5 separate regions of the Homo sapiens genome follow, and regions 1, 2, 3 and 4 are each linked to region 5. A link means that fine-mapping ties the variant in region 5 to the plasma level of a protein whose gene starts in the linked region. Region 5 holds a variant in brackets. A gene starts in each other region. All regions are shown on their forward strands.

Region 1 (6,097 bases), not on the chromosome of region 5:
GCCCTTCTCTCCCAGCTGGCGGCACCAGGCCTTGCGCCTCCCCCAGTGCTTCATGGAGTCATAGGGGCAAGACACCTGCAGGGACTGGCCCGCCACGCCCTGGAACACTGTGGTGTTGTGGGCTCCGGACAGCTCTGGGGAGGAGACATTCATTCACTCCTTTGTTTACCAAATACGCTTTGAACACTTGCTCTGTGCAGTGACCTAAACAGACAAAAATCCTGCCCTGAAGGAGCTTAGGTTCTTATACAAGTTGGGAGCGGATGGCACAGCATGTGTTTGTGGGAAATTGGGAACCAGGAAACCTGGGACCTGGGTTTGGTTTTCTCACTGTTGCTCTTGCTGGGCCTCCTTGGAGAAGTAACTGACCTTCTCTGGGTCTATTCTGGAGGCACTTGGTCTTAAAACCCCCTCCAGTTCTGTTCTGCACATCTCTTTGCCATCATTTGGGACTGGGACCTCTCCTCTCGGCCTGGGGCTGGCTCTCCCTGCCCCGCCACTCTTGCTTGCTCTGCAGCCGCCCACATTGGTACCGACTTTCCTGACCTTTAACTTCCAGCTTCCCTATTTCTGTGGCTTTGTTCCCCTTTCAGGAAGGACCCGTCTCGGAGATATTTTGGGGGAGACATGAGGCTGCTATTTTGGGAACCCTCCTTAGGGCGGGGGAGATGGGCTTAGAGCACCAGCCTGTTGCTGGGGCAGCCCCCAGAGCCCCCTGCTTTGACTTCTCTCTTGGTCCTCCCTTGCCTGCCATCTTCAACCATTACTGTGACAGAGGCTTGAAAGATAGGATTGGGAAGTTGGTGGCTTGCCTTTTGGAACTAGAGAGACCAGATGGGCCGTGGCCCTCTCCCATCTGACCACCTCCCATCCATGCCTCAGAACCCCGCCTTCCCCCTGACCACCATCTAAGAAGCTGCAGGAACAAGACTCCATTTGGCACCGTCTCTCCTCTTGCCCAGGTTTGTCCAGTGCTCTGGGGGAGCAAAAGGTGCGCTTTCCTCAGCGGGAAGAAGCAATTGTGTACAAAAATTTGGTGTGTCAATTCCCCTCAACTCAGCAACGGAAATCTCTACGCTCCTCACCTCCCATCAAGAGCTGAGGACAAGGGGACCTTCAGAGCAGGGGAGAGAGTGCCCCAAAGATGCAGATGAACATCCTCAGGTTCTTTCCTCCTTTATAACTGTAGGGGCTCATAATTAGTGGCTTATAATTTCAGAGGCTATTACCAGTGCCAGTGCCCCCCAAAGCTTCCCCCAACTGCCAGCTAGTGCCTGGGATGCCACTGTTAGCACTCCTTCCCTTCCAATGCAACCAGAGTCCACCAGCCCCTTACATGTCCACATGCAGAAAGAGTCTGAGGGTAGGTTTTGATACTGGGGAGGGAAGGAGGGTGTGAAGAATATGGGCAGGGTGGGGAGGAGAGGAGTGCAGAACAGGGCACTCAGGCATGCGAGGACTGCCACCGCCTTCATAATTCACCCCAGGGCCCACCACCCGCGCCCCAACCACATGCTCAAAGTGAGGGAGAGAAGGCATCACAGGGCACGGAGGGGATCCTACCTGTGACAAAGAGTAAGATGAGCAGCCGGAGAGGCTCCATGCCACCCTTCCCCAGCCAAGGGCAGAAGCAGAGTGCCTTGTGCAAGATCTCGTCTTTCCCTTGAACTGCAGAAAAGAGAGGATCAGGCATGTCAGGCGCTGCCCACAGGAACTGGGCTCCTGGGGATTAAGCAATAGTCAGGACTGGGGTCTGGAGGCGGTGCAGGGTGGGGACAGAGGGGAGGAGGAGTCGGCCACTGCAGCCCTGGCAGAAGGAGGCTGAGTCTCCCAGACCTCTGAGAAGCCAGCCCACCCTCCTGCTGGTGCCAGCCAGGGTGGCCCCCAGATGGTTGGGGCTGGTAAGGCCCTGCACTGCTCAGTTTCCTTGCAGAGCCTAGCCCAGGGATCACTATCCTCACAGCTGTATTCAGACCCTCCACCAGCTGCAATGCCCGCCATCTTCTGGTTTCAGCCTTGCAAGAGTTGGAGAACAGCTGTGCCTTTAGAGGCCAGGACCCTCATCCAGCACCTCTTAGTTCATCCCCCCAGGGCTGTCATTCCTGTAGTGTGGCAGCAGTTAAGTACACAGCTCTGGAGCCAGACTTCCTGACTTTCTGGGTGTGTAACCACACATCCAAAACCTACCTGTGTCTGTTCCCTGATCTATACAGTGGGAATAATGATAGTGCAAAGGGTTATCAGGAGCACCATATGGGTTCCTACAGGTAAAGTGCTTTCCAGTAGGGCCTGACACACAGCATTCAACAAATACTAACTATTACCATTATCCTAGTTAGAAGGGAAAAGGGAAATGGGCTGTCCATAAGACAGAAAATTTTCTCTCCCACCTGGAATTTTCTGCCCAAGTTTAGCCTTCTTGGAACTGTTGGGTGTCTCCTGTGCACACATGCTCACACTGGTGTTTATTTTGTGCACACACATGCTTGAACTCCTGATCATCCTATCCTACAGGACAGGACAGGATATTTCTCAGAGTTCTGGGGGTAGGGGTGTGTTTTTCTACACGTACAGGTTCCCATGGTGATCCAAGCACAGGGACCCACGTGTGCAAAGGCACAAAAGTGTGAAATGGCCCAGTGAGTCGGGGATTGGATGGAGGAGGCTTGAGTCAATTCTAGGAGTGGGAAATGGAGTTGTGCTGGGAGTGGCAGAAGAGGCTGGAGAAGCCTGCAGGAGCCTGTAGATTATCAGGGTCTACTTTAGTTTCCTGCAAACACTCACTTATTTGTTCTTTTATTCATTTATTTACTCATATTTACTGTGCATCTAACTTACGGACAGGGAATGTGCTTGGAGATGGGGAATTCATAGTGAGGAGAAGACAGGCCTCCACTCAAAGGGCCAACTGCCCGGCCTTGCCCCAAGGGCCTGGGGGCTGAAGTCTGAGGCTGCCTGAAGATCACTCTGTAGGTACTCTTCTAGGGTCTTTTTCTAGAAGTCAGGTTTATTGGCCCATAATTTACATATACAAAAATTTACCCCTTTTAAATGTCTAGTTGTGTAAATGTTGACAAACTCATGCATCTCTATAACAACCACCACAATCACCATGTCTGTGTAACACAATACCATAATATAGAAAGTTTCATTTAGCTTAAGCGAGAGCCTTTGTGCCCATTTTAGCCAGTCTCTTTCTCTCCAATCCAGGGCCTGGCAACTACTAAGCTGACATCTGTTTCTGTAGCTTCCTGCCCTTCCTAAAATGTCATAGACATGGAATTAAATAGTATGTAGCCTCTTGGGTCAGTCTTTATTCACTCATCAGAATAAATTCAGCATGCGTGAAGTTTCACTTCTCAAGAATGTATTCCTTTTTATTGCTAAACCATCTTTCATTCTATGGTTGAACCACAAGTAGCGTATTCATTCACCCGCTGATGGATATTTGGGTTGTTTCCAGTTTGGGACAATTATAAATGAAGCCACTATAAACATTCATGTACATATGTTTTGTGTGGACATATGTTTCTATTACCCTTGGATAAAATCCTAAGAATGGGACTGCTGGGTCACATGTAAGTGTATGTTTAAGTCTATAAAAGCTGCCAAAGTCTTTTCCAAAGAGGCTGTACCATTTTTACATCCTTGTCAACAGTTAATATTGTCAGGTTTTAAAAAGCCTTTCTAATAGGTTTAAGGTGATATCTCCTTCAATTTTAACTTGTATTTTTCTAGTGAGTAACGATATTGGACATCTTTTTGTTGTTTATTGCCATCTGTACCTTCTTCAGCAAAGTATTAGTTCAAAACTTTTGTCCTGTCCATTTTTAATTGTTTATTATTATCATTATTATTGAGCTGTGAAAATTCTTTTTATTCTGGATAGCAGTCCTTTATCAGATATGTGATTTGCAAATATTTTCTTCTAGTCTGTAACTTTTTTTCTCATTTCCTTAGCAGCATTAGCAGCATCTTTTTTTTTTTTTTTTTTTTTTTTTTTTGAGACAGAGTTTTGCTCTTGTCACACAGGCTGGAGTGCAATGGTGAGATCTCAGCTCACTGCAACCTCCGCCTCCCAGGTTCAAGCGATTCTCCTGCCTCAGCCTCCTGAGTAGCTGGGATTACAGGCACCTGCCACCACGCCTGGCTAATTTTTTTGTATTTTTAGTAGAGACGGGGTTTCACCACGTTGGCCAGGCTGGTCTCGAACTCGTGACCTCAGGTGATCTGCCTGGCTCAGACTCCCAAAGTGCTGGGATTACAGGCATGAGTCACTGCACCCAGCCTAAATGGATAGATGTTATTTCTGATGAAGTCCAATTCCTTGATTTTTCTTTTTACAATTTGTGCTTTTCTGTGCTCTGTTAAAAAGTTTGCCCATCTCAGAGTCACAAATATTTTCTCCTATGTTTTCCATTGGAAGTTTTATAGTTTTAGGTTCTACATTGTGGTCTATGATTCATTTTTCATTAATTTTTGCATGTGGTATAAGATGCACTTTGCAATTTTTTCAACATATGAATGTCCAATTGTACTAGCATAATTTGTTGAGAAGACTTTCTTTTCTTCATTGAATTACCTTAGTGTATTTGTTGAAAATCAATTGACATGTAGGTCTAGTTCTGACTGTTCTGTTCCGTTGATCTATATGTCTATTCTTTCTCCAATATCACACTGTCTTGATAACTTACTGTAGCTTTACACTGTCTTAAAATCAAACAGTGGTTCTTCAAAATGGTTTTGACTCTTCTAGTTACTTTGCTTTGCCATGTAAAATTTAAAATCAGCTTGTGGATTTCTAATCCTCTTCTTCTCACCCCCAAAAATCTGTTGGGCTTTCAGTTGGGATTGCATTGACTCTATGGTTTAGTTTTAGAGGGAAATAGACAACACTGTTGAGTGTTCCAAGCCATGGACACAGTTCAGCTGTCCATTTATTTGTTTCTTCTATGATTTCTCTCATCAGTGTTTTCAGTTTTCAGCATACAAATCGTGCACATATATTGTTAAATTTCTACCTAAATATTTTATGATTTGGGGTGCTATTTTACATGATTCTAGCTTTCTGTTTCCTAGGCAGAAGCATAACTCATAAGCTCCATAAGTTTTTATCTTATCTTCTGGTCCATTTAAGCTGCATATTGACCCCATGTCCCCACTCCTTCCCACATGAGGAAAAGGTCTTTAAACCTCATGGAAAAGCGAAGGCACCAAGAAATCCTTACCAATTACTCACAGCACATGTACATCAAAGGCTCTTCTTTAAACTTGTGTTAATTTTCCTGATCCCTCGATCCTATATTTGAGCACAGGAACAGTTCTGCACCACCCGCACTCCCAAGCACAGGATTCTTCTTTTCCCTTTGCTAAATCTGAATTCAAAGATACCTTCCACCTCACATCTGGGCACAGAGTTTATGTCCTTCTGTCATTACGTCTGAACTTCCTCACTCACCGATGTATGCATTCATTCATGTGCCAGGCATGGTGTTACAGAACCATGGAGCCTTTGTGTTCCTAGATATGATGGTGACCATTGCTGGGGAAAGCCTCAGAACCAGAAGCATGACTGCACACATGACATGCTCCTGATGTCTAACTTTAACTGAGACCTCACAGCTGCCTGGTCATCCTCTTCAGAACTCCTGGAGGCTAGAGTAGCTGTTCCAAATCATCACTCTCCTCAAACACACACTTTCACTCTCTCTTCTCCTTTCTCCCTAGGAGTAAATCAAGACGGTCAAGTATGAGCATCCTCACCACCTTTCAGATCAGATCCTCCATTATCTTCCCATCTGCACCCAGCCAGCTTGAGCAGCCAGGAAAGCACTAGGTGTTGGTCAGGACCATGGCCAGTGCCAGCCCCTGTGCTAGGCTGGGGAGGCATGTGACTGGAACAGCCGACATAGGAACAGGCCTCTCAAAGCTGGAATAACTCCAATTTGATTAGGCTTATTGTCAGCCCAACCTGGGACAGCCCCTGCAAAGCCTTGCCTGAGAACTGGGCTTAAAGGGGTGATTGGTGGTGTCCATTCCACCCTTGGCTGGGGCCACCAAACTACAAACATAAGAGCCCACAAATGCCATTCACTAA
Region 2 (6,334 bases), not on the chromosome of region 5:
TACAGAGTCCCATCAGTTTTCTGGAAAAACGGACAAAAGGCTAAAGCTAGTTTCATTCATCACAAGGTCGCCATCTCTTAGTTCTCTAGTTTCAGGCTATTTCACTTGCTACAAGATTTGATTTTAAGAGAGATCTGTATGGAAGCATTTTAAAGTTAATGTCCAAGATTGAGCTCAAATGCAATGTGGATTCTTCTTTATTTTGAAATATTTATAGCTTTTCTATTTTTTGGCATACTCTTAATCGAGCATGCTGCCGATTGCTGGTCAATTGGCTTCGACACAGTAGTCCAGGGCCACAGTCGCAACGCTGGAAGATTTCTGGAGCTTGAGCAGTGTCTTTATGCCCTCTTCTGGAGCAGACCTGTCCCTCCAAAAGGACTGGCTTACAAATTTTCGTCCAAAAATGACGAGCACAGCAAAGTCCAGGGCCACAGTCAAAAGTTCTCAGACAACTTTCTCCCTCTTGTCCTGTAACAAGGTTAATGTGGGCTTTAGTGATAAATAAGGAAAGTGGCCTGCTGGGGGTTTGCTACTGGGATAAGGGAATGGGACCTATGACTGACAGCCACAAAGTAAAAACAGACACAGCACGCAGGTCTCACAGAGCTAGGTGTTACGCTAAAAGCAGTAATGCCATGGCGACTCCACCCCTACCCATCAGAATTGATCGTTGTTACTGGCTGCAGACTACCTTAGGCTACTCTCTACGTGACCCCCACAGCTTCTTACAGAAAGAGATAACAAACAGCACATGCTTCCTAAGTGTTTCTGGGATGGAGAAGAATAAAATCAGTCTCACCCTATCCTTAAGAGGCTGGGAGGAGAAAATGCATTTCTGAAATAAAATATGCTGCGAATGCTGTTCTTACCCTTCCTGCCTTGTGATTTCTTAATACTTGGCTTCCTTTTGGGTTGGTTTTCCTGGACTGGGTGCCCAGTTGTTCCTTCTGCATGTGTGCCATCTTGCTCATCAAGCTGCCTTTCTAATATTGGGGTTGCATCTTCCATCGTAGTACAAACATCTGAGGGACAACCAGGTGTAACTAGAATTATTAACTTCAAGGGGGAGAACCACAGACACACTAATTATCCTACTGTTGCATAGTTTGGCAGCACCTCTGCCTTCAGTTTATATATAACTTTCTAGATTTCTGGAACATGTGCTAAATATTTACATGCTCGCATGTGGCAGAGAAAGTAGCTAAGTGGAAATTGCATTCCATTAAAGGTAGTTAATGGTATCCAAGTGGAAATGGAAGTATTTGAATGATTACAACTTGAGTCTTTCCTTTAAAATCATTATCTCCAAGTCATTGGCAAGAGCTGTTGCCAGGAAATAAATTATTTTGTTTCATTAAGAAAAGGCAAGCCGGGTCCGGTGGCTTACGCTTGTAATCCCAGCACTTTGGGAGGCCGAGGTAGGTGGATCACCTGAGGTCAGAAGTTCGAGACTAGCCTGACCAACATGGTGAAACCCTATCTCTACTAAAAATAACAAAAATTAGCCGGGCATGGTGGTACATGCCTGTAGTCCTAGTTACTCCAGAGGCTGAGGCAGGAGAACCACCTGAACCCGGAGGCCGAGGCTGCAGTGAGCTGTGGACAACAAGGGCGAAACTCCGCCTCAGAAAAAAAAAAAAAAGGAAAAGAAAAGGCAGCTGCATACATTTACTTCAAGCATGAATCTAGGAAGCACCATTAGAGAGTGCCTACCCTGGAATATTCTAGTCTATGGGGCTTAGACACTACCTTCGGTTTAAAAACCACTGTTGGCGTTATGTCGCTCACCGTTCACACAGAGTGTCCCAGGGCAGCACATGGCATCTCGCTGGCACCTCCTCCGCAACCCACGACATGTAGCACAGAACGGCTTCTCATCGCGGGGCTGGAGGCAGAACTTTCTGGTATTGCAGTCCGTGTCAGACAGGCACTGTGAGCCCTGTGGAGGGAATCTGTTATCACAAGGCTAGGAAACCCCCAACACGATGGAAGATGACTTATTATTGAAGGCAGGAGGCGGAGGGAGCCAAAGGACAGTGGCGCTGTGACAAACCCTGGGCAGCATCTTACTCTCCAGTGGAAATGGTTTTCTCCCACAAAGGGAAGCTCATGTCACCCGGGGAGACCTAGGCGCTGCAAAGGCTATTTGAGTTTGAAAAATTGACTTAACTCAGAATTTAGTTTTCCTGTGCTCTTTGTGAAAATGGGAAAAAATGTTTTCCTATGTGTGTCTTAACAGGTGAGTATGAGATTTTCAATATATCTTAACTCTAGAAGCTGGCTACAGTTTCATTAAACATACTATTGATGTTTGTGGCATTCCTATTTGATTTTTTACTCTAGTGAATCACATTTAGCTTAGAGACCCTTCCCTAAGTGAACTGTCCTTTGATTTTCAATGATGCCTCATTGACATAGAGAAAGAGATACCGAAGATCAATTGTTCTCATACACAGTTGATGCTTCTACATAGACATACAACGTAGGTGTAGCATATATGATATATGTAATAATCTATACGATATATAATAACATATACACATACATAAAGCGATTCCTAAAACAACTCTCTCTGTGAAGTTAGATGGTGACAAGGCAATGCATCATGGCCCTCTGTTTAAATTCTCATTCCCATGTTTGCTTGCTGGCTGTGTGAGCTTGGGTAAGCTCTTCAACATCTCTGAGTCTTATTTCCTCATCTGGAATTAGGGAATGTTTCACCTATCTCAAATTGTGAGGAAGAGTACATGACGTATTACATGTAAAAGAGCTGGCACATAGTAGAGCTTCCAAAGTGTTCGTTTATTTCGTGATTTATAGACAAACGTATGGCCGAATGATGTGAAAAGCCACTGTGTTTATTTCATACATTCACACTAAGGCCACTGATCCTACCAGGATGCCCTCCCAAATCCGAAACCAATTCAATTTACCTGCTAGGTAAGACATTTCATACATGAATCAGAATGACTTACTAAAGCCTAAACAAAACACCCCAGCTGTCAGCAGTCCCGTACCTCGCCCCCCTCCCTAGCAGCCTTACCTTCCGGGCCCCATGCAGGTCAGCAGAGCTCCTGATGTTGTTGAAGTCCAGGACCAGAGCTCCCAGGGGAGAGCAGAGCCAGCTCAGCCCCAGCAGGACGGCCGCCACCATCCTTCAATCCCGGGGCTCCTGGAGGGTCCCAGCACTGTGCGTCACCAAAGCGAGGCTGCTCTCCACCCAGAGCAGAGCTTCCACTAAGCTGGCAGCTCAGCACGTCGTCTGTTTGTCACTGCTTTTTCTGAAAGAAGTAAACCTTAGTCTGAGTAAGGTGCGTGAAATCGGCTGAGCAAAGTCTGACCAGCAGGTTCCTCCTGAAACTATTTATAACCAGATGTGCCTCCTCCCCGCTCCGTTCCTTCCTCCTGCCCCACACAGGCTTCAACAAATCCCTTCAAATCTGTTTGATCAATAGTTCAAAACAAGGACTCAATAGAAGGAGAGAAGAGGCAGGGCCATGCGGCTTCTCCTCCAGGGGTTCAATCCCTCTTAATTATTGCATATCAAAGTTAGTTCAAAGGGCCACGGCAGAGCAGGATGTCTGTATCAAAGGCAAACTCTGATAATCACCTGCATTTCCTACCTTCAGTAATCCTTTGGGGGTAGGGAGGGAGTCTGCCCTAAGATCTGTTTTCACAGCTAATTGTGCTCAAAGAAAGGATGAATCATACTGGCCAATATGCTATAGAGGATGCCAAAAACTAATGAGGTACAAAATACACTGAGAAGCTGTAAACTGGGCTTCAGATAGTGAGGACAGATAGAAAAAGAGAAAACGCCCCCTGATTAGCTCTGGCATCCAGATGTCAAAATCCCAACCGCTTAAAAGTTGTGAACGTAACAGCACCTGTTCTGACTAAATGCCATTTGGGAAATTACTTTCCTTTAAATGAAAATTGAACTGTTTGAAGTTAGGGTTATTAGGAAAATAATGTAATTTATGAAAATCCCATTTTTCAATGGTGGGAACAATGATAGCGCATTTTACACAATTCAGTACGAAGCTTTGGGTCCATTTTATCAGCAACATATTTAATTTGTGTTGCATTATGTAAAACTCACTTAAGCAGAACAAGGATCCAAGTCTCTGGCTGATTTCAGATGAAATTTCATGTATTTCCAATTTTCCTAATACGAATTTTTTAAAACTTCTGCTTCATCCCTTTCCTGTCTGATTTTTTTCCATTTGGACTATTAGTCAGGTAATTTAGACATGTGCTTATCACTGTCTTAAATACTTTAAGGGTAGAACAATCTAGATCTGGATCAAAAAATCATTTTTTCTCTTCATTGTTTCATTGCTCTTAGCATAGAGTCATCTAAAATGCATTTTTTCTATGCCATAAATGATAATCTTATTATTTACTACATTTTCCTGCAGAACAACCTAACATCAATTCATTGACATGAATCTCAGCATTCTGTGCATGGGAACATTCTCAATTTTGAGTAATGCAGTGCCATTCCGAGGGTGATGCAGGTGATTCGAGCCTTCCTACTACTTGGCCCTTGTCCTTGGGTTGGTATTGCTTGTCTACCTCTCGTATGGAAGTTACTTGTTTTAATCCCTTAAACTGACATCAAACAACACCCTTTGATAGCATGATAACCCTGGTGACTAGGGGTGTTACAGAATTTATTTTCAAGTTGTACAATTATGACCAAGGATAAAGGAAAGAGCCCCCAGGGTTCTGTCTCTGCCGGGTTTCTCTGCTTCCTGCTGCCTCACTGTAAGGGAATTTCAGGTTACCAAAGGCCCCTGGCAATATACACAGGCGAAAGAACTGACGGGAACTCCTGTAACACGGCACAAACAGCCACTGAGCACTTAGAGCACTTGGCATGGAACAGAGCCTCGGATTACATGTTAGGAATAAAATTTGAAACTCCAATGGCCGGGCACAGTGGCTCACACCTGTAATCCCAGCACTTTGGGAGGCCAAGGTGGGAAGATCTCCTGAGCTCAGGAGTTCAAGACGAGCCTGGGCAACATATTGAGATCCTGTCTCCACAAAAAAAAAAAAAAAAAAAAAAGTAGGCCGCGTGCGGTGGCTGACGCCTGTAATCTCACCACTTTGGGAGGCTGAGGTGGATGGATCACCTGAGGTCAGGAGTTCGAGACCAGCCTGGCCAATATGGTGAAACCCTGTCTCTACTAAAAATATAAAAACTAGTCGGGCGTGGTGGTGGTCACCTGTAATCCCAGCTACTCGGGAGGCTGAGGCAGGAGAATTGTTTGAACCTAGGAGACCGAGGTTGCAGTGAGCCAACACGGTGCCACTGCACTCCAGCCTCGGCAACAGAGTGAGACTCCATCTCAAAAAAAAAAAAAATTAGCCAGTCATAGTGGTGTTCACCTGTAGTTTCAGCAACTCAGGAAGCTGAGGTGGGAGAATCATTTAAGCCCAGGAGATTAAGCCTATATATATATATATATATATATATATAGAGAGAGAGAGAGAGAGAGAGAGAGAGAGAGAGAGAGAGAGAGAGAGAAAGATTCAGACAGAAAACTTGTATGTATGGATGACAGAGCCTGGGTGACACAGAGAGAGAGAGAGATCCAGATAGAAGACATGTACATATGGATGATTTCAATGTATTATGACAAGCACTAAAATAAAGGTATAAATATAAGGGTGGAGGACTTATGAAGATATAAATACAGACGAAGGCATGATTTAGACTTTCTAGAGAAATAAAGGAATGTGTTTACAGATGAGGTAATATTTGAGCTGAATTTTGTTGGTTGCATAGGGGCTTCCTAAGTTGGGAAGTCGGAGATATCCTCACCTGGGCTCAGAGGGTGAGGTGTGTGCAAGAGGGAGGAGGTGCACTCAGGTGCTAGTGAGAGATTGTGTGGCTGCGGCAGATGATGGAAGGATGAGATGAAGCAAGATGCAGACCCTGATATGCCATGCTAAGAAAATCAGATTCTATTCTCTGCACAATGTAAAGTCATTGGAGATATATCAGACTGAGAATGCCATGATCCGCTGGGTGCAGTGGCTCATGCTTGTACCCAGCACTTCGTGAGGAGGATAAAGCAAGAGGACCACTTGAGGCCAGGGAGCAGCCTGAACAACATAGCAAGACCCTGTCTCCACAAAAAATAAAAAACCTGGGCATGCCAGCACTTGCCTGTAGTCTCTGTTACTTGGGAAGGTGAGATGGGAGGATCACTTGAAGCCAGGAGTTCAAGAGCAGCCTGGGCAACATAACAAGAACCCATCTCTACGAAAAATACAAAAATTACCCTGGTGTGGTGGCACGTGTCTGCAGTCCTAGCTA
Region 3 (6,334 bases), not on the chromosome of region 5:
TTTTGAAAAAAAATAAAAGCACAGTTGGAAGACTTATTACATCTAAGTTGGAGTCCTATTATAAAGTTATAGCAATCTGAACAGTATGGTTTTGGCATAGGAATAGAAATATAGATCAAATGAAAGGAATAATGAGTGAATCCTGAAATAGACTCACTCATCTATGGCCAATTGATTTTCAATAAAGGTATCCAGTTACTCAATGGGAAAAAAGATAATCTTCTCAACAAATGGTGCCAAAACAACTGGATATCCATGTAGACAATAATGAACCTCAGCCCTTACTTCATACCATACACAAAGGTTAACATCAAATAGATTGTAGACCTAAATATAACAGCTAAAACTATAAACTTCTATAAGAAGCCATAGAAAATCTTCATGACCTTGGGGTAAGCAAAGATTACTTATGTAAAACCTAAAAGTACAACACACACACACAAAAACACGCTTGATAAACTGGACTTTATCAAAATTAAAAACTGCTGTTTGAAAGACACTATTAAGAAATTGAAAGACAAGAAACAGACTGGGAGTGTATATTGGTTATATACATATCTAACAAATGCCTGGTATATAAAGAACTCCTACAACTCAATAATAAGAATCCAAAGACTTGATTAAAAATTGGGCAATAAATTCAGACACTTTATCAAAGAACAGGTGGCATGAGAGCACATGAAAAGCTGGTAAACATCTTTTATGGTCACCATCATTAGTCAGTAAGGAAACGCAAATTAAAACCACGATGTGATACCACTATATACTTACTAGAATGGCAAAAATAAGAAGACAGAAACTACCCAGTGTTGATGAGGATGTGAAGCAATTATCATATCTTGCTGGTGAGAATGTAAAATGTTTTCCACTTTGGAAAGCAGTTCATCTTTCTATATAGTTAAACACACAGTTACTGTAATAATAATTTTACTCCTGTAAGATAAGAAAAATAATAATGTATGTCCACAAAAGGACTTGTTAAAGATTGTTCCTAGCAGCTTTATTCATAATAACCCCATATTGAAAACATCCCCAATGTCCATCATTTGGTAAACTGGCAAACAAATTGTGGTATATCCATACAATGGAATACTACTCAGCAATAAAAAGGAACAAACTTCAGATACAGGCACAACATTAATGAGTTTCAAAAACATTGTGTGGAGTGAAGGAAGTCAGACACAAAGGAATATGTAAGTGATTCCATTCATATGAAATGTTAGAAAAGACAAATCTAATCTGTAGTTACAGAAAACAGCTAAGCGGGCCAAATATGAGGTGGGATAGAAGTTGACTTTAAAGGGGTGCAAGACAACCCTCTGAGGTGATGGAATTGTTCATTATCTTGATTGAAGCAGTGGTTACATGGGTGTGTACATTATTCAAAACTCATGAAGCTGTATAATTAATATGAGTGTAATATATGGAATGTAACTTATCCCCCAATAAAGTTGATTAAAAAATTAAAAGGAAAGTGGGGCAACCAAGTTTCATAAAGCAAAATATCTTTGGGTAATAAGTGGCATGAACTAACAGCCAATTTCCTTAGAAAACAGCCATATGGATTAATCACCTCTAGAATTATTTGTGCCTGTGCTGCCCAGATCAAAGTTCCAACTCCTGGCAGAGAGGGCCTGAGGGGCTTAGCTGAGGTCAGTTGCTCTCTTCTGGACAGGGAAAAGCTGGACCATCCTGACTGACCTTCCACCCAGACTGCTGTCCTTGTGGCAGGGATGGTATCTCAAAGAAAAATGGAGGTACTGTTACCAGAGAAGGGGCAATGATGACTGCTAAACAAACAAATAAACAAACACCAAAACAGTCTTCCCCTGTGTATTTCCAGGGAGAGTAAAGAGGATGGTGAGGGGCTTCAAACATATCTATGTTCATTCATTCCATTCATTTATTCACTCAAACATAATATGGAGTCTGTACTATTTTCCAGGAGCGTTATTGAGTAGGGACTCGAACGCTCTTGAAGTCTCTCTAAAAAGAAAGAGTTCTTATTAATGGGAGGAAGAGAAGCCTGGTAGGAGATGGTTACCTGGAGTGGTTATGGGGCTTAAACCTGTTTTTGTTTTTTTGTGGGGAGAGGGGGATAGAATTCAACGACACAAGAAAGAACTTTGCAGCAGTCAAATTTGTATCTTTTGGGGTCCTGTAAAAGCTGGAAAACTCTTTAGTCTGGAAGAGGAAGATGGACAGTCAGAGAAGCAGATTCCAGAATTCATGTCCTGTCTAACCCACAAATGGAAAAGCCCGTTCATGGTTTTAACATTCCATCACTGGGCCTCCCGGGGCCTCCTCGGCGAGTCGGCAGAGGGAGCCATTCCCCAATAAATTGCCGCGCGAGGCCTCCGAGGACCTGGGGGGATTTTCCTGCGCGTCCGGGGAGTTCTCTCTCCGCCCCTCCATGGTAAAGCAGACTATCCCACCCTCCACCCTCTGCCTTCACCTCCCCGCCCCACCTTTCCATGTACTTTGCTGCCACATCACATTCTCTGGCACGGCTTAATCACCATCCTTTCTGGGTCCCACCTTTGCGCTTTCTCCCCTGACACCACTGAGGACCCGCCGTCCACTCCAGTTGGCCGCTCGGGCGCCGGCCACCGTCCCACAAATCCTTACAGAGGGTCTAGAACACCTCCCAGGGACTCTGCCGAGGGACTTGCACCCAACGTGGGTTGGGAATCAGGCGGGCACCCACTCTGACACCCCTTCGGTCACCCCCTGCGGTGACCCCAACATTTGCTAACTTCGCGACCAGGCCTTTGGCGGGGTCACCCACCAGGCGGTGGAAGCCGCTCAGGCAGGGGCGACTCACGATCGAGGTGCAGCAGTCAGGCCGGGAAGATCCTGCATGTTGCGCTAGGGACTGCGCGCGGCGCCAAGCGACAACCCCCCAGCGGCCACTGCCCCGGCAGCAGCAGCTGCAGCAGCGGCAACTGCTCGAATCCCGGCCCCGGCTCGGGTTACCCGCCCCCACCCCCTCCAGCATCTCGGGCCAGACAGAGAAAACCTTGTTCAAGTTTGCAGCAAGTACTTTCCCGGTGCGCAAAACTGGGCGACTGGGAACGCGTTGAGACGTTCCTCTTTCCCGCTTCTCCACCTTTACGCCTGAAAGAAGACTCCCAAAGATTGCTTTCTTCTGGGACGCTGCTTGGACGCTAACCGCGTTGATTGGAACAGATTTTGTGTCTTGGCTGGCTTTGGGTGAAGACCGGGGAGAAAAGGTTGCGCTGCGATTCTCAAGATCTCTGGACCTGGGTAAGAGTTGGGCAAACTCAACTCCGGCGGCTCCTGGACCTTGGCCGGACGCCGGAAGGCTTCTCATGGGCGGGGGTCACATTTTCCTTAGCCAGGGTACCGGGGTGCGGCGTGAGGTGGGGCGAGATGGGCTCAGTCTGCGTTGTTCATGCGCTTCTTAAGGGTTTATTGTTGTTTGCATTTGGTTTTGTTACATGGGATTGTGTAGGAAAATCCTGGAGTATTTTTGATGGAGAGACATCCTCATTACGCATTTTATTTTGCATAATTCCTGCCCTTGTATTGCCTTACCTTGTGTTTGTTTCATTTTGCCGGGCGATATAGCTGGATGTAGGGAGATTTGTGGGGAATCGGACTGAGCTTGAAAGGCAGTTTCAGCTGGGCCCTTTCTTCTAGGTCAGTTGAACTTCCTTTCTGGGATCTTCACTGTTTTCTAAACTTCTCTTTCTCCCGTCCTTGGTATTCAGATTGTGCAGATAACGCTCTAGGCTGGCGGGATGCTCCCCTTTCCTGAGTTCTCAGCGATCAGTAGGGGTGTGAGGTCGCAGTCTTAGACCAAAGGGGCCTTGTCAGTATGCTTGGCTCCTTAAGGAGTGCTGGGAGGGACGGTTTTTCAAGTGATAGTTACTTAAGAAAGATAAATCCGGTGTTGATCTTTTTCTTTTAAATTCCTTGTTAGAGGACTTTTACGCCTGGTTTAAGGAAGTGTTTTGGCCTTAATTTTCTTTCTGGAAGTATTTTTCTTAGTGACACCACTGAGCAAATGAATGATGGCAATATCTTTGCTGCTTCTTTAGAAAATATCCTCACGCAAGGACCCACATTATTTAGGAGAAAGTCAAAGTTGGAGATCTTATTAGCCAAAATTAGCCATTATTATTGTTCTTAGGCTGTGATAACCATGCTGTGCCAAGGCAGAAGAGAATGACATTTCTTCTTGTTCTTCTTGCCTTACTCCTTTATATCCTGGGTCTCACTTTGTGTATAGGGTTCCCAAATAAAAATGCTTCATTCCTTATGGACAGAAATACTGGGGCCAATTTATATTATCCAGAAATGTCATCTTCCTGACACGAGTGCTCCAAGAGGTCAGCTTGCAGGGAACTTTTAATTTTACCACTGAGAGTTCAAAGAGTTCAGTTGGTAAACTCTGGGCACCCGCCAGCCTGGGTTCAGCTCACAACTCTGCCACTTTTCAGTTCTGTGATTTTGGGGTAAGTTACTTAATCTGTTTATCCACATATGTAAAATCAAAATGATAATAATAGCACTTACATCAGACAATTGTTAAAGGGATTAAGTAAGTTAATGCATGTGAAGGACTAACAAGCCTGACACATAGTAGGCACAAATTAGCTTTATTATTATTGTATAGCTAGCATTAACTATTGTTGTATCCCTCTAGTATAGCTTCTATTAGCTGTCAGTAAGTGTTAGCTATTATTCCTATTTGGATGGACTTTGAAGACTGTGCTCATCTGTAAGCTTCACTACCACCTATTGTCAAACTTAGCTCAGACATGATCTTTGTATTGCTTTTTTGTTGTGGCACTTTCAGTTGGAAAAATAAAGGTGTATATGGCAGAGCTGGAATTTATAGGGTGGTGGGTCATGGATGGGCACCAAAGACTACTTGGAACAGGTGAGGAGGTGGGAAATCTACACTCAGTTCACAGCCTGTATACCTCCTTGGAAATCCTTTACATTAATATACTTTCTTTAACCTATTTTTTAGAGGTCACTCATTTGTTCAGTAAGTATTTATTAACCATCTATTACATGTCAAGCACTGTTTTAGGTTTTATATTTTAAAAATGGCTATGCATGAGTATTGGCTTTATGTGCCTCCTCCCATTTCAAGTGTGTGACCTAGCACTCTATAAATTAAATCCCAAGTATTTTTAGCTACACAATTTCCATACCTGTTAAAATGCTCATAAGAGCACATAAAAAGCACGTATCATTGAGAAATTGAACAAAATATTCCCTATGACCTCAAGCAGATTGCTTTTCTCCATTTAGGCATCAGTTTTATTATGTATAAACTTGTGTTGAGAGGTGGGGAAAGAGTAGAATAACCTCCAGTGTTCCTTCTGGCTCCAAAATCCTTAAATTAGCTGCCTTACTTCATTGGTGGCTGTTTTTGAACCCCCACTTTTCTCTTTTAACATTTGTTTTAGGTACATAAATTACGTTACTTCCATCTTTGCATATTCATCAAAGTGAGTAACAACATCGATAATTAATGAAAAGGGAAAAGCGTTTATCTCTGTCTGTCTTTCACTATTCTCAGACTTTGGTTTATACCAGAAGCATGAAGTGGGGAGATTTGTTAAAATATTAGAGTGAACTATGAGAAATTGCTGATATTTGACCATTTTTGACCTAAATAAATGGCAATTTTGTATGGTTCAAACTATACAAACCCTAATCCCTTCTGCCTTGATTTAGAAGTAGTAAGTCTTCTGTGAGTTGTGAGAAGTCTGCATTTTTACAAGTTCCCCAGGTGATTCTAATGCAAAACTCAAGTCACATGCTCATTTAGCAGCAGTGAATTTACCTTCTTTGTGATTGTCTGCTTGGTTTAATAGTGTATTTCTAAAATGCAAATCTGATCATGTTATTCCCTTGTTTAAAAATCTTTGGCAGCTCTCTGGATGGTGAATGTCAGTGTTACCTGGGTGCATGTTGAAAATATAGATTCCAGGGCTTCACCCCAGAAGTAAGGGCCAGTAATCTGCATTTTGAGATCTCCAGGTGAACCTGGTAAAGCTGACGTCAGATCACATTTGGAGAAACACTGGCTTACAGCATAAAGTCTCACCTCCTTACCGCTATACACAAGACCACCTTTGCAGCACTTCTCAGGGTTATTTTCTGCTTCTCTGGTCCCCAGCTCTCCAGCTCCCACTGATCTTGATCTTGTTACTATCTCAAGAATACGCTGTGCACTTTCACTCTTCCATGACCCAGCTGTATATGCTGTTCCTTCCTCTGAAAATGTCTTTGACCCTCTTTCCTGTCTAACCAACCACTTACCACCCATTCATCTTTTAAGACACTATTC
Region 4 (6,192 bases), not on the chromosome of region 5:
ACTCCCCGGCCCTTCCCTTATGTGACCAGGCACGGACAATTGGGAGCGCAAAAATCCAATGAACTGTCCAGCCAACTGGAGTTGGCAGGGAGATGGCCAGGACAAAGTTATCCAGACAAGACTTATCCATACTAGAGTCCTAGAATCTCCCAGGTGGAAGGGGTTCGAAAGTCAAACGCAGTTCCCTGGCCTCATTTTTCACCAGGGAAAAGAGAGGCCCGACACAGCGGATTCCTTTGTCATTATCTGTAAGCCGCATCCCTGGGGGCGGCAGGGCTGTCACCCGATGTCCCGAGTCCCAGCCCAAAAGCCCCAGCGCAGAGACAGCAGGGCCGCATCCCCCTGTCCCGCCAGGGCGCAGCGGAAGAAGCCGCCCCTCTGCCCAGCCCGGTCCCCGGGGCTTTGTCTAAGTTTGTCAACAGTGGAGGTGGAGGGCGGGCGCCGGGCAAACTTCCGAGCGGCGCGGGGAGGAGGGGCGAGGGGCAGAGGGCGGCGCGATCCACTCACCCAGGGCGACGAGGAGGCTGGGGGCGCAGAGCAGCGCGCCGCACAGCGCGGCCAGCAGGCGGGGGCGCGGCATGCTGCGGGGACGCGGGCGCTGGAATGGGCACGCTGGGCTGCTCAGACCCCGCGGGGTTCTGGCGCCTTCTCCTCTGGGACCGGAATAAATCAGGCGGCTCAGCACCTCCCACTGGCCGTGCGCTCCGCCCAAGCTGGCCAGAGGCGGACTGGGGGCGGGGCTCCGCGGCTGGGAGGGAATTGGTTGAAAGGAATTGGGGGGCGCGGGGGTGGTCCGCGATATCTGCCTCTTCCGCCACTGCCACACCGGCGTCCCGCGTCGTGCCAACGGCCGGGTCACGAGTCTTGAGTCTGTTGGGCGGGAAAAGTTCAGGAGTTTTGTTTTTAAGATTTTTAGACTTGAAAAGATGCTAACTCTTTATTCATAATCAGATAGATGCAAATTAAAACTACAATGAGCATCGTGTTTCCCTTCTCGGATCGGCAAGTATCAAGATGTTAACAAGGTTAGTGGAGGCTGTGGGGAACAGGTCCAAGCATGCTTCGCTGAAGACAGTATAAATTAGTTCAACTTCCCTAGAGGGCTATTTGGTAACACCTATCAAAACGACAAATGCTGACACCTTAAGACCTAGCATTTCCACATAGAGAGATTCATTCTACAGAAACTCCCATGTGCAAAATGACAGATATACAAAGATAGCATAGCAACATTGTCTGAAATGGTAAAATACTAAAAAAAAAAAATCAGCGAAGGTTTCTGTAAAGGGCCTAATAGAAAATGTTCTCTGATATGTAGGCCCTGAGTCTCTGTAGCAGCTATTCATCTCTGCCTTTGTTGCAAGAAAGGCACCATAGACAAAATGCGAGGAAATGGGCACCTGTTTGCCGAAAGGGAATAAAACAAAGCAAGCCTGTCACCGTTGACTTTTTACTAAATGATTTGTACTTATCATGTGCAAATATTACCTGTTTACAAATAAGTGATTTTAATAATAGTGTTTTGGCTGGGTGCGGTGGCTCACACCTGTAATCCCAGCACTTTGGGAGGCCGAGGCACGTGGAACACCTGAGGTCGGAGTTCAAGACCAGCCTGGCCAAGATGGTGAAACCCCGTCTCTACTAAAAATACAAAAATTAGCCGGGCGCAGTGGCAGGTGCCTGTAATCCCAGCTACTCGGGAGGCTGAGGCAGGAGAATCGCTTGAACCCAGGCGGCAGAGGTCCCAGTGAGCCGAGATCATGCCACTGCACTCCAGCCTGGGTGACACAGTGAGACTCTGTCTCTAATAATAATAATAATAATAATAATAATAATAATAATAATAATGCTTCAGGCTGGGAGTGGTGACTCAAGCCTGTAATGCCAGCTCTTGGGGAGGCCGAGGTAGGCATATCACTTAAGCTCAAGAGTTCGAGACCTTCCTGGGCAACATGGCAAAACCCTGTTTCTACAAAAAAAGAAATACAAAAATATTCCAGGCGCATGCCTGTAGTCCCAGCTACTCAGGAGGCTGAGGTGGGAAGATCGCTTGATCCCAAGAGGTCGAGGCTGCAGTGAGCCACGATTGCACCACTGCACTCCAGCCTGGGCAACAGAGCGAGACTGTCTCAAAAAATAATAACAATACTAATACTAATAAGTATTTAAGTCAGACTAGCCAACAAACAAAATAGAACAGTCACACATCTCCCCTCCTAGCTGTGTTGAGACCTAAGTTGGGACTAGAGTCCACTGGCAAGATGCCCTTCTTAAAATATTCAGAAGCGGGTACTGGGCGTGGTGGCTCATGCCTGTAATCCCAACATTTTAGGAGGCCGAGGCAGGCGGATCACGAGGTCAGGAGATCGAGACCATCCTGGCTAACACAGTGAAACCTCGTCTCTACTAAAAATACAAAAAAAAAATTAGCCGAGCGTGATGGTGGGTGCCTGTAGTCCCAGCTGCTCAGGAGGCTGAGGCAGGAGAATGGCGTGAGCCCGGGAGGCGGAGCTCGCAGTGAGCCGAGATCGCGCTACTGCACTCCAGCCTGGACAACAGAGCAAGACTCCGTCTTAAAAAAAAAAAAAACATATATATATATATGGGGAAAAGACATATAGGATCAACTCAATAATCACAGAAAAAGCATTTGATAATATCCAACACGTCTTCGTGATAAAACACTCAACAAACTAGAAGTGAAAGGGAGCTTCCTCAACCTGATTTTTAAAAATCTATGAAAAACCGATGGGTACAGTGGCTCACGCCTGCAATCCCAACACTCTGGGAGGCTTAGGCGGGCAGATCAGCTGAGGTCAGCAGTTCGAGACCAGCCTGACCAACATGGTGTAACCTGGTCCCTACTAAAAATACAAAAAGTAACCAGGCATGGTGGTGCACACCTGCAATCCCAGCTACTCAAGAGGCTGAGGCACAAGAATCGCTTGAATCTGGGAGGCGGCAGTTGCAGTGAGCCGAGATTGCACCCCTGCTCTCTAGCCCGGGTGACACAGTAAGACTCTGTCTCAAAAAAAAAAAAAAAAGTGTGTATATATATATATATATGTATATATATATATATGTGTATATATATATGTATATATATATGTGTATATATATGTGTATATATATGTGTATATATATATGTATATATATGTGTATATATATATACATATATATATGTATATATATGTGTATATATATATACATATATATATATATATGTATATATATGAAAAACCCATAGCTACTATCATACTTAATGGTGAAAAACTGAATGTTTCCCCTAAGCTCAGGAATAGGACATGGTGTTCTGCTCTCATCACTTCTATTTCATCACTGTGCTGGAGGTTCCAGCCAGGACAATTACGCAAGAAACAGAAAATACATCCCCATTGGAAAGGAGGCAGTAAAACTATCTCTATCTCTACTTACAGATGGCATGATCTTGTATATCAAAAACCCTAAAGAGCCAGGCGCAGTGGCTCATGCCTGTAATCCCAGCACTTTGGGAGGCTGAGGTGAGCAGATCACCTGAGATCAGGAGTTCAAGACCAGCCTCAACATGGAGAAACCCCGTCTCTACTAAAAATACAAAATTAGCTGAGCGTGGTGGTGCATGCCTGTAATCTCAGCTACTCGGGAGGCTGAGGCAGGAGAATTGCTTGAACCTGGGAGGCGGAGGTTGCGGTGAGCCAAGATCGCGCCATTGCACTCCAGCCTGGGCAACAAAAGCGAAACTCCATCTCAAAAAAAAAAAAAAAAAAACAACCCTAAAGAATCCACATACACACACACACACACACACAAACACACAACTATTAAAGATAATAAATGAGCTAAGCAAGGTTGCAGGATACACAATTAATATACAAAAATCAGTTGTATTTCTTACACTAGAAATAAACAATCCAAAAACATAATTTTTAAAAATCCCATTTACAATAGGATTAAAAAGAATAAAATACTTAGGAATAAATTTAACAAAAGAAATACAAGACATGGCGGGGCACGGTGGTTCATGCCTGTTATCCCAGCACTTTGGGAGGCCAAGGTGGGTGGATCACCTGAGGTCAGGAGTTCAAGACCAGCCTGACCAACATGGCGAAACCCTGTCCCTACTAAAAATACAAAAAGTAGCCAGGTGTGGTGGCTGGCACCTGTAATCCCAGCTACTCGGGAGGCTAAGGCAGGAGAATCGCTTGAACCTGAGAGGCAGAGGTTGCAGTGAGCTGAGATCGTGCCACTGCACTCCAGCCTGGGTGACAGAGAGAGACTTCGTCTCAAAAAAAAAAAAGAAAAAGAAATACAAGTACGTTGAACACTACAAAACATCATCAAAAAAATTAAAGAAGATCTAAACAAATGGAAAATTATCCCCTGTTGATAGGTTGGAAGACTTGTATTGTTAAGATGCCAGTACACCCCCAAATTGATGTACAGACTCAATACAATCTCTGTCAAAATTCCATCTGCCCTTTTTGCGGAAATTGACAAGTTGATACTAAAATTCATACGGAGGCCTGGCGCAGTGGCTCATGCTTGTAATCCCAGCACTTTGGGAGGCCAATGCGGGAGGATCACAAGGTCAGGAGATCGAGTCCATCCTGGCTAACACAGTGAAACCCCGTCTCTACTAAAAATACAAAAAATTAGCCGGGTGTGGTGGTGGCCGCCTGTAGTCCCAGCTACTCGGGAGGCTGAGGCAGGAGAATGGTGTGAACCTGGGAGGCAGAGCTTTCAATGAACCGAGATCACACCACTGCACTCCAGCCTGGGTGACAGAGCGAGACTCTGTCTCAAAAAAAAAAAAAAAAAAATCACACGGAAATGCAAGGGACCCAGAATAGCCAAAACAATCTTGAGGAAAAAAAAAGAACAACATTGAAAGACTAACATTTCTCAATTCCAAAACTTACTACAAAGCTATAATAATCAAGTCTTCTAATTAGAATTTACTGTTCCCAACCTGTCTCTCTTAAATTTGCAGTCTCTCCTATAGTTCTTATCAAACTTTGCCTCATATTGGAATGATGGTCGCAATACCTGTCACTCGATTGTAAGTCCTGGTATATGGAATAATGTCATATGTATTCTTGTCACCCTAGCCCAGCACCTTTTATGTAGAAAGAGATCCATCAGCAGTGTTACTTTCAGTCGCCTCCCTGTGACCAAGCCTTCTCCCAGAGAAGGAAGCTGCCCTGCTCAGGGACATATGACCCATCCCCAAACCACAGGCTCCCTCATGGTCTTCAGGGTTGAGCCAAGAAGGCTCACCAGTCACCCTCTGGGGTTAAATTAATGATACATACATAGTAAACAAATAAAAACACTGGTAAAGCCAGGTGCGATGGCTCACGCCTGTAATCCCAGCACTTTGGGAAGGTAAAACACCATCTCAAAAAACAAACAAACAAAAAATTATGCTAAGTGAAAGAAGCCAGTCACAAAGACCATGTTGTGTATTACTCCTTTTCTATGAAATGTCCAGAAAAGGCAAATCTATAGAGACCAATGTTAGATAAGCAGTTGCCAGGGGCTGGGGTGAGGGGAGAATGAGGAATACTGTTCGTAGATACAGAGTTCCTTTTGGGGGATGATGAAGATGTTTTGAACTTAGTGATAATGGTTGTATGACCTTGTGAGCATACTAGAAACCACTGAACTGTACTTTTTTTTTTTTGAGATGGAGTCTCGCTCTGTCACCCAGGCTGGAGTGCAGTGGCTCAATCTTGGCTCACTGCAACCTCTGCCTCCCAGGTTCAAGCAATTCTTGTGCCTCAGCCTCCCAAGTAGCTGGGGTTACAGACGTGTGCCTCCACACCCAGCTAATTTTTGTATTTTTAGTAGAGACGGGGTTTCCTCATGTTGACCAGGCTGGTCTCGAACTCCCAACCTCACGTGATCCGCTGGCCTCCGCCTCCCAAAGTGCTGGGATTACAGGCATAAGCCACTGTGCCCAGCCTCTGAACTGTACATCTTAAGAGTGTATTTTTGGTTATGTGAATTTTATTTCAATAAAAAATAAATACAACACTTCAGAAATCCATCTCAGATGGCAGGTAGAGAATGCTGCGAGCATAGCACCCTTACCAGTTAATGCCACTTACTCTTGCAGAACGGAACTTCCTAATCGCCCTCACTGGCTTTCTGCCACCCACGTGAAACAACTGCACAGTTACCCAATTAAGA
Region 5 (6,334 bases):
TTGAAAGAAAAGATATCAGTGGATGACATGGCAGTGAGGTTGAGCCTAGGATAAAAAGTGGCTTTGAGTGTTGCCTAAAGGGCTGGATGCCTTCTCTGATAAACAAGTCAAAGCTGAAGAGAGACCCGGGGGGAACTTTGAAGACCAGAAGTTTGACTGGGTAATCAGTAAGACTTCTGGTATCCAGAGTGCTGTGGTGGTGGTGAAGACATGGTGGCAGGGGGTGAGGAACAAAGCTGGAGTGTGAGTACAGTAGATGAATACACCAATTGTGGACTCTGAGTCATAGTCCTCTCCTGTGGCAGAAGGTGGCACCATGTGATTGATATGGGGGATGTGGATTTTCAAAAGAAGGACTCTCTCTCACACATACACATACACACACACAAACACACACACACACACACCTGTTTATCCCCTACATTCTTTTAGGCAGAAGAAGGTATGCTTTATTCTGTGTTCAAATAATAGTTAGTGCCCTGTATATATCCCTAATTTCACTGTCATCTCTGTTTCTCTTATTTGACATAGTGTCTGGTATCCAATAAGCGTCAATAAAAGTTGAATGTCCACAGTAGGTAAATAAATAAAAGAAATGGTGTGTGTCAGTGGGGGGTGCAATGGACAGGGAGAAGACATAATGAACGAGAGTTTGAAGATAAAGCTAAAATCAAAGAATCTGACAGTCCAGTTTCAGCCTGGAAAAGAAAACAGCAGAAAAGCTGAGTATCAGGATATCTGATACAGTGGGTATGACCCCTGCTACAGTGGGTAAAAGCAAGGGAAACATGACCAGTTCTTTCAATGAAATGGAGCTCATGTAAAATTGAAATACTTTTCTACGTGTGTGTGTGTACACACATGCTGAAACTTAATATTTATACACAAACAATTGGTCTTTCTTGCAATAAGAAAATAAGTATGAACTGGTCGATGCTTCATAAAAAATGAGTATTCCTGGTTAGCTTTTGTTTGCTCATTAGTTTTGTTTGAATATTTGATGGGGAGAAAATGGAGTTCCAATTTGGGTTTATGTCTGTCATTGTTGACTTATTCTGTGTTTAAGGGAAAAAACAACAAAACGAGTGTTAAAACAAAATATGCACTCAAAAATTTTATTTTGAAGCCAGCTACTTTCATATACCCTGAGACTTCATTATATGGGGCTTGCCTTTATGCACTAATGAGTTAAAATACATAGGATAAAACACTAGCACCTGTATAAAAAAGTCTGAGCACCACAACAAATCAGTTAACTCCTGTTGACAATTAAGGGGTACAATAAAAAGTTGTGTCCTTTGCTTCACTGTGATCCATTGAATGATCATTCTGTCTAGTTTTCTGGGAAACATTTTCTGGGAAATGTTTCTGGGAATGATCATTCTGCCTTGTTTTCTGGAAATTCAGACTATTTGGCTAATCTAGTAAATGGTAATTTACAGCCCCGTGCTTTTGCTGAAGTCAATGTCAGGCAAATCAAGAGATCCCCAATGAACACATATCTTAAATGACAGTGAAATAATGGTTTTTTTTAATGTTCATTACTTTAAAAGCTTACATTTAGGAAACTCAAGCTTTGCTTTTCTATAATGGTTAACTTTTCCATATTATCATAAGAATCAACTTTCTGATTAATATTTCTCCCTTTTTTCTTAAGAAGTCAATAGTTCTTCATATCCACAGTCATGAGTCATTTTTGAGGACATGCCAGAATTACCAATGTAACTGTGAGGCAGGAAAAGTACACTCTAGAAGAAACAAAATATGTTAGGTCTTCAGACTTCAATCAGGTTCAAGATAGATGTATATATGCCATTTTTCCAACTGTATACATAGAATTCTTAGCTAATCCAAGATAAGTAGAGCATATCACCAGGTTCTTCAAATAATTGCAATTTATCACCCTAGTATTCATTCTACACTCTATAATACAATTTTGGATAAATCAAGGCTTTTTAATTCAGTTAAATAAAGCCATAAGTCCATAGGGGTTTGATTCAACAATACATTTTTAATATAGCTTTAAAAAGGCAAACGAATTTTAAGATCACCAGGGGCAAATGCAGAGCATAAGACATTCACTGGATCCAGTTACGTGTGTAAATGCCCTTTACCAAGTCAATACTATTAAAGAGACTAGTGGTTGTGGCAGAAATTGTTTCTGCTTATAAGGGAGGCAAGCCAGGTTCTAGTGTCCTCAGCAAAGGCACAAACTCATAGCATAATGCCAGGCCAGTCATTTAACTTCCCAGAGTCTCATTCCCTTCGCTGACAAAATAGGAAGATTGAATCAGTTGATTTCTCATGATTAACTATTTTCATATCCAGTGAATTTTCAGCTTATCAGCTACTCAATTGCCATCTGCTTTTCTTCTCTGTCTTCCATCACAATGCAAATGCCCTCCCATGTGTATCTCATGACTGACTGATTGTTCCTTCTACCACTCTTGGTGACATACTCAACACAGTGCAGGGATAAGATACACTAGGCAAGGTTAAGTGAAGCCGGCCAGCACACTCACCCCAGGGAAGTCAGAGTAAGCCTGTTTCCACCGCAGCACAGCAGTGAGCACAGCTAGGCAGAATTCCAGCAGAGTGCAAATCAGCATCAGAGAGAGAG[T/A]TCCCTGAAAGTCAAGAAATAAAAGATTGATGTTGCTTAGGTCAGCTGAAGCCTTCATGCCTAGTTGAGAGGTGACCATAGAGATGAAGACCACCTCAACCATTAGAGAATGAAGAAAGGACACCATCAGGAAGATAAAACTGCTCCTCCCACACCTCACAATTGTCTTAATTCAACCCCTTAACTCATTTCCTTGAGAGGAGAAAGGGAGATGAATAGTAATTAAATCAACTAATCTACTTCATACACTTATTTCTTACTTCTTTGAGACATCCATAGTTCTGATGACATTGTTCACTCGGTAAGAAAGCAGAGTGGCGTAATAACTCCCAGGACTGAGAATCAGCAGCTCCGTTCCAGTCTCACCTTTACTGCTTAGTAGCTGTGTAAGCCTGGACAAGTCTCTCTCTTTCTCTAGCTCCTGTTTCCTCATGTATCAAACATGCATACTAACATTTCTTTCTCAGAAATTTGTAAGGATCAAGGAGGTTTTGACTGTGCAAGTCCTTTGTAAAATTTAGTATTGACATCCCTGTCTATGTATCTGAACCCCTTTGTATTTCTTCTTGATTTTTGTTGTTGTTTCTTTGTTGTTTTTTCTTTTTTTTCTTTTTTTTGGGGGTGTAACTGTAAGGCTTAGAAAAAAACAGTGAAGGTAGTAAACTGTCAGAGTTGCTAATCACCAACACCAACTCACAAGAATGAATTCTATCATTTCTGTCCTGAGACATTCTTTGTGCAGAACTGGCCATCTGATAATAAACGGAAATAATTTGATCACATGAAACTTTGGTTTGTGGTATTTATACACAGTTAAAGAGAAGATATAACTTTTTCCATTACTGGAAATTGTTCCAGCAAGCAAACTTGACAGAATCTCTCTTATTTCCAATGTAAAATCGTCCCATCATGAATTTATACTTTATCACTACCAAATTTCTCTGAAATTTCTCTTCAGAATTTTTCCCAAGGTGGAATTGGCTGTGCCAGGTATTAATCTGTGCCAATTGCTGTCAGCCTCATTTACTTGTACTTTTTCTCATTATACCATTACCTTGGGAGCAAGGCCCTCTTTATAATGAGTGCTATACAAACATGACTTTGACCAGACCTTTCTATCTGTCCATCTTCCAGCTGAGTTCTTGGCTTATCTTGTTTTTATGATTGCAGGACAACAAATATTCTGCAATTTCTTTATTCCTTTTTTTTTTTTTTTGAGACGGAGTCTTGCTCTGTCACCCAGGCTGGAGTGCAGTGGCGTGATCTCAGCTCACTGCAACCTCCGCCACCTCCCAGGCTCAGGTAATTCTCCGCCTCAGCCTCCCAAGTAGCTGGGATTACGGCTGCCCGCCACCACACCCAGCTAGTTTTTGTACTTTTAGTAGAGATGGGGTTTCACCGTCATGGCCAGGCTCATCTTGAACACCTGACCTCGTGATCCATGCACCAGGGCCTCCCAAAATGCTTGTATTATAGGGGTGAGCCACTGACCCAGCCGTCCCTTTACTCTTATGTTGCCTGTTTTTCTCTCAATGTGTTGCTGACCATGCACATGCCCCTTAATCTTTCAACTTCAGACATATTATTTCTATTAGCCAAACTTCATTATTTTTCTTCTTCCAAAGAGATAGAATTCTCCTGCAATCATTCTCAATTACACTCTCCATCTCCCTATATTTCTTATCTCCTGATTTAATATATCACACTTCTTTCAGCTATAACAAAAAGCAACAATAATGTTGCATTCTCACCTGATCAGTATTATTCATTATTGTGATCATTAGAAGAAGAAGCCCTTATCTTCTCATCCCATATTTCCTATCCTCTTTTTCTTAGTACTGAATCTGATGTCTTCTCAAACCAAATTAACTCCTTACCATGCACACATACTGTTTCCTTGTTGGCCTATTCTGATCTCCTGGGTCTTTCTGCTCTGTTTCCATTCTTAATTCACCACTCCATGTACCAAGATTCTCATTTTGATAAACTCATAATTTATGCCTCCAAAATTGGATTAGTTTGATAATTAAGAACCTCTACAAACAGTAAGTTTTAGTTTTTCATCATCAACCTTATTTAACATTTTCAATTCCACTCTATTAGTATGTAATCCCCTTAATCTCATCCCTGTAGTCCCCTTTGATTTACATAAACCTGGCTTTCCCCCAGATGCCCAAACCAGAACCAATAGAGAGATTTTCAAAAGAAGGAATAACAAGAAATCAAGGCTTTTGAATACCTCATAAGATTAGAACATCCCATCTAAAAATACTTACAGCCAGACTGGCTTTGGCTGTATAGCAGTCCGTGGTATAAAGTGAATCATGATAAAAGTAAGAAACATAACTTCTTGTTGGTATATTATTTTTGTCCAACTCACACTGCAGTGAGGCAGGATTTAAGGTGGCCTGTTTGACAGACAGGATAATGAAACCCACCAGGGCAGACAGAGCACTCAGAATGCTTCCAACCAGGCTGCTATGCACCTGAAAGAGAAATGTTGGGTAAGGATCATTGCTAATGACTCATGAATCTGTTATGCATCTTTGCCATTAAATTGTAAGTTATTCCCTTATCTGTCCCCTCAGGAGGTCTGGGATTGATCATTTATTGCTGTATGCCTCTCCAGTGTCCAGCAAAAATCTCTCAATCTCCAGGGTAATTCTTGGCTGAATGAATGACTATACGAACTGGTTCACCTTAAGCAGGACCTCAGTGGTGTGGTAGAGAATGTTACTCTCCTAAATTCTTTCCCCAGGACAGATAGCAGGGCTTTCATGAGGCTTTACCTGCAACATTACCAAGAGAGCGTGACCCAAAGTGAAGGTGGCAACGTACCAGATGCAGTTTCTCTCTCGCTCAACTCAAAAACCCCTGGCGGAAGCATCAGCCACATGGAAAAGATAGATCATGTATTAGCATGGTGCAAAAGTAATTGTGGTTTTTGCCATAAAACCACAATTATGTTTGCACCAACCTAATAGCTCACTCTCGCCTGCCCATTGCTTCTCTCAAAAGCACACCTCTCAAAGATGAGTGAGGGGGTGGTTCTGAGTCTCAGGCAGGCCCTGGAACATGGGCAGGCATATGATTGGCCACACTGAGTGCAGTATGGGGTGGCTGTGGGCAGAGGTCTAGGTGCAGGCCCAAGGATGGTGTAATGTGTGGGAGGCAGCGGGAAGTACAAGAAAAAGGTCTGAACTGGAGGTCAGAATATTGAAGTCACAGTACTAGACTTGCCTTGGTTTATTCCCTTGGGTAATCAGTTCCTTGATTTTATTTCCCACTCTGGTTCTCATTTATACATTTATGAAGTGAAGGGAATAGATAAACTAACCTCAGAAGTGACTTCTTTTGTACTCCAACTCACACAGAAAAGAGAATTGAGCTAAGAGTACTCTGAGAGCTATAGTTACAGGTAGGTAGGCTCCAGGGCACACCTCACAGCCATACAGTAGAATGTTACTTAATCCCACATGGGCACTTCTTCTTTTAGGAACTCACCAGTTGATACTCTGGGACCCCAATTTCCCAACATAATGACTGAAGTGTACACTCCTGGGCCTCCTAGTAGCCAGTAGTATTCTTGATGCCTAGAGTCTATATTTCTTAGAATAAGCTAGATTTGTCTTGAGATGGCACTCTTCTTCAATCTCAAAAAGGGCTGGTGCAATGTGTGACAAGAGTAGAACTCGCTAAAGCCTCGATGTCTCT

Alleles and levels. Positions count from the first base shown, and alleles are read on the strand shown. Strength reflects both the effect of a copy and how common the allele is.
In carriers of allele T in region 5, the plasma level of the protein whose gene starts at base 1,637 in region 1 tends to be lower than with A alone (strong association).
In carriers of allele A in region 5, the plasma level of the protein whose gene starts at base 3,341 in region 2 tends to be higher than with T alone (weak association).
In carriers of allele A in region 5, the plasma level of the protein whose gene starts at base 3,007 in region 3 tends to be higher than with T alone (weak association).
With allele T in place of A in region 5, the plasma level of the protein whose gene starts at base 640 in region 4 is lower (moderate association).

Evidence for each region. PIP is the chance, under the fine-mapping model, that this variant and not a neighbour inherited with it causes the effect. The UK Biobank Pharma Proteomics Project read protein levels with antibody pairs (Olink). The fine-mapping took linkage between variants from a reference panel, not from the people measured, so its PIPs are less certain.
Region 1: it holds the start of TREM2, and the variant in region 5 is fine-mapped to the plasma level of the TREM2 protein (UK Biobank, PIP above 0.99).
Region 2: it holds the start of DKK4, and the variant in region 5 is fine-mapped to the plasma level of the DKK4 protein (UK Biobank, PIP 0.98).
Region 3: MEGF10 starts here. The variant in region 5 is fine-mapped to the plasma level of the MEGF10 protein (UK Biobank, PIP 0.99).
Region 4: MFGE8 starts here. The variant in region 5 is fine-mapped to the plasma level of the MFGE8 protein (UK Biobank, PIP above 0.99).

Annotation. Positions count from the first base shown.
Region 1 is chr6:41,161,480-41,167,576 of GRCh38, forward strand. It overlaps TREM2 (triggering receptor expressed on myeloid cells 2), which reads right to left and starts at 1,637. Exons shown (of 5, transcript NM_018965.4): 1 at 1,564-1,637; 2 at 1-134. The coding sequence starts at 1,603.
Region 2 is chr8:42,373,889-42,380,222 of GRCh38, forward strand. DKK4 (dickkopf Wnt signaling pathway inhibitor 4) reads right to left here and starts at 3,341. Exons shown (of 4, transcript NM_014420.3): 1 at 3,047-3,341; 2 at 1,792-1,942; 3 at 873-1,025; 4 at 175-471. The coding sequence starts at 3,157. The coding sequence ends at 212.
Region 3 is chr5:127,287,790-127,294,123 of GRCh38, forward strand. MEGF10 (multiple EGF like domains 10) reads left to right here and starts at 3,007. Exons shown (of 25, transcript NM_001256545.2): 1 at 3,007-3,267. LOC105379199 reads right to left here and starts at 2,947. Exons shown (of 4, transcript XR_007058921.1): 1 at 2,789-2,947.
Region 4 is chr15:88,912,740-88,918,931 of GRCh38, forward strand. It overlaps MFGE8 (milk fat globule EGF and factor V/VIII domain containing), which reads right to left and starts at 640. Exons shown (of 8, transcript NM_005928.4): 1 at 508-640. The coding sequence starts at 580. RefSeq lists an enhancer at 1-381 and cis regulatory regions at 5,087-5,320, 5,484-5,604.
Region 5 is chr11:60,170,506-60,176,839 of GRCh38, forward strand. MS4A6A (membrane spanning 4-domains A6A) reads right to left here. Exons shown (of 6, transcript NM_022349.4): 5 at 4,897-5,106; 6 at 1,992-2,624. The coding sequence ends at 2,496. Among named protein-coding and RNA genes, the nearest start is that of LINC02705, 9.3 kb to the left of the region's middle. The variant T/A (reference allele first, on the strand shown) is at 2,621.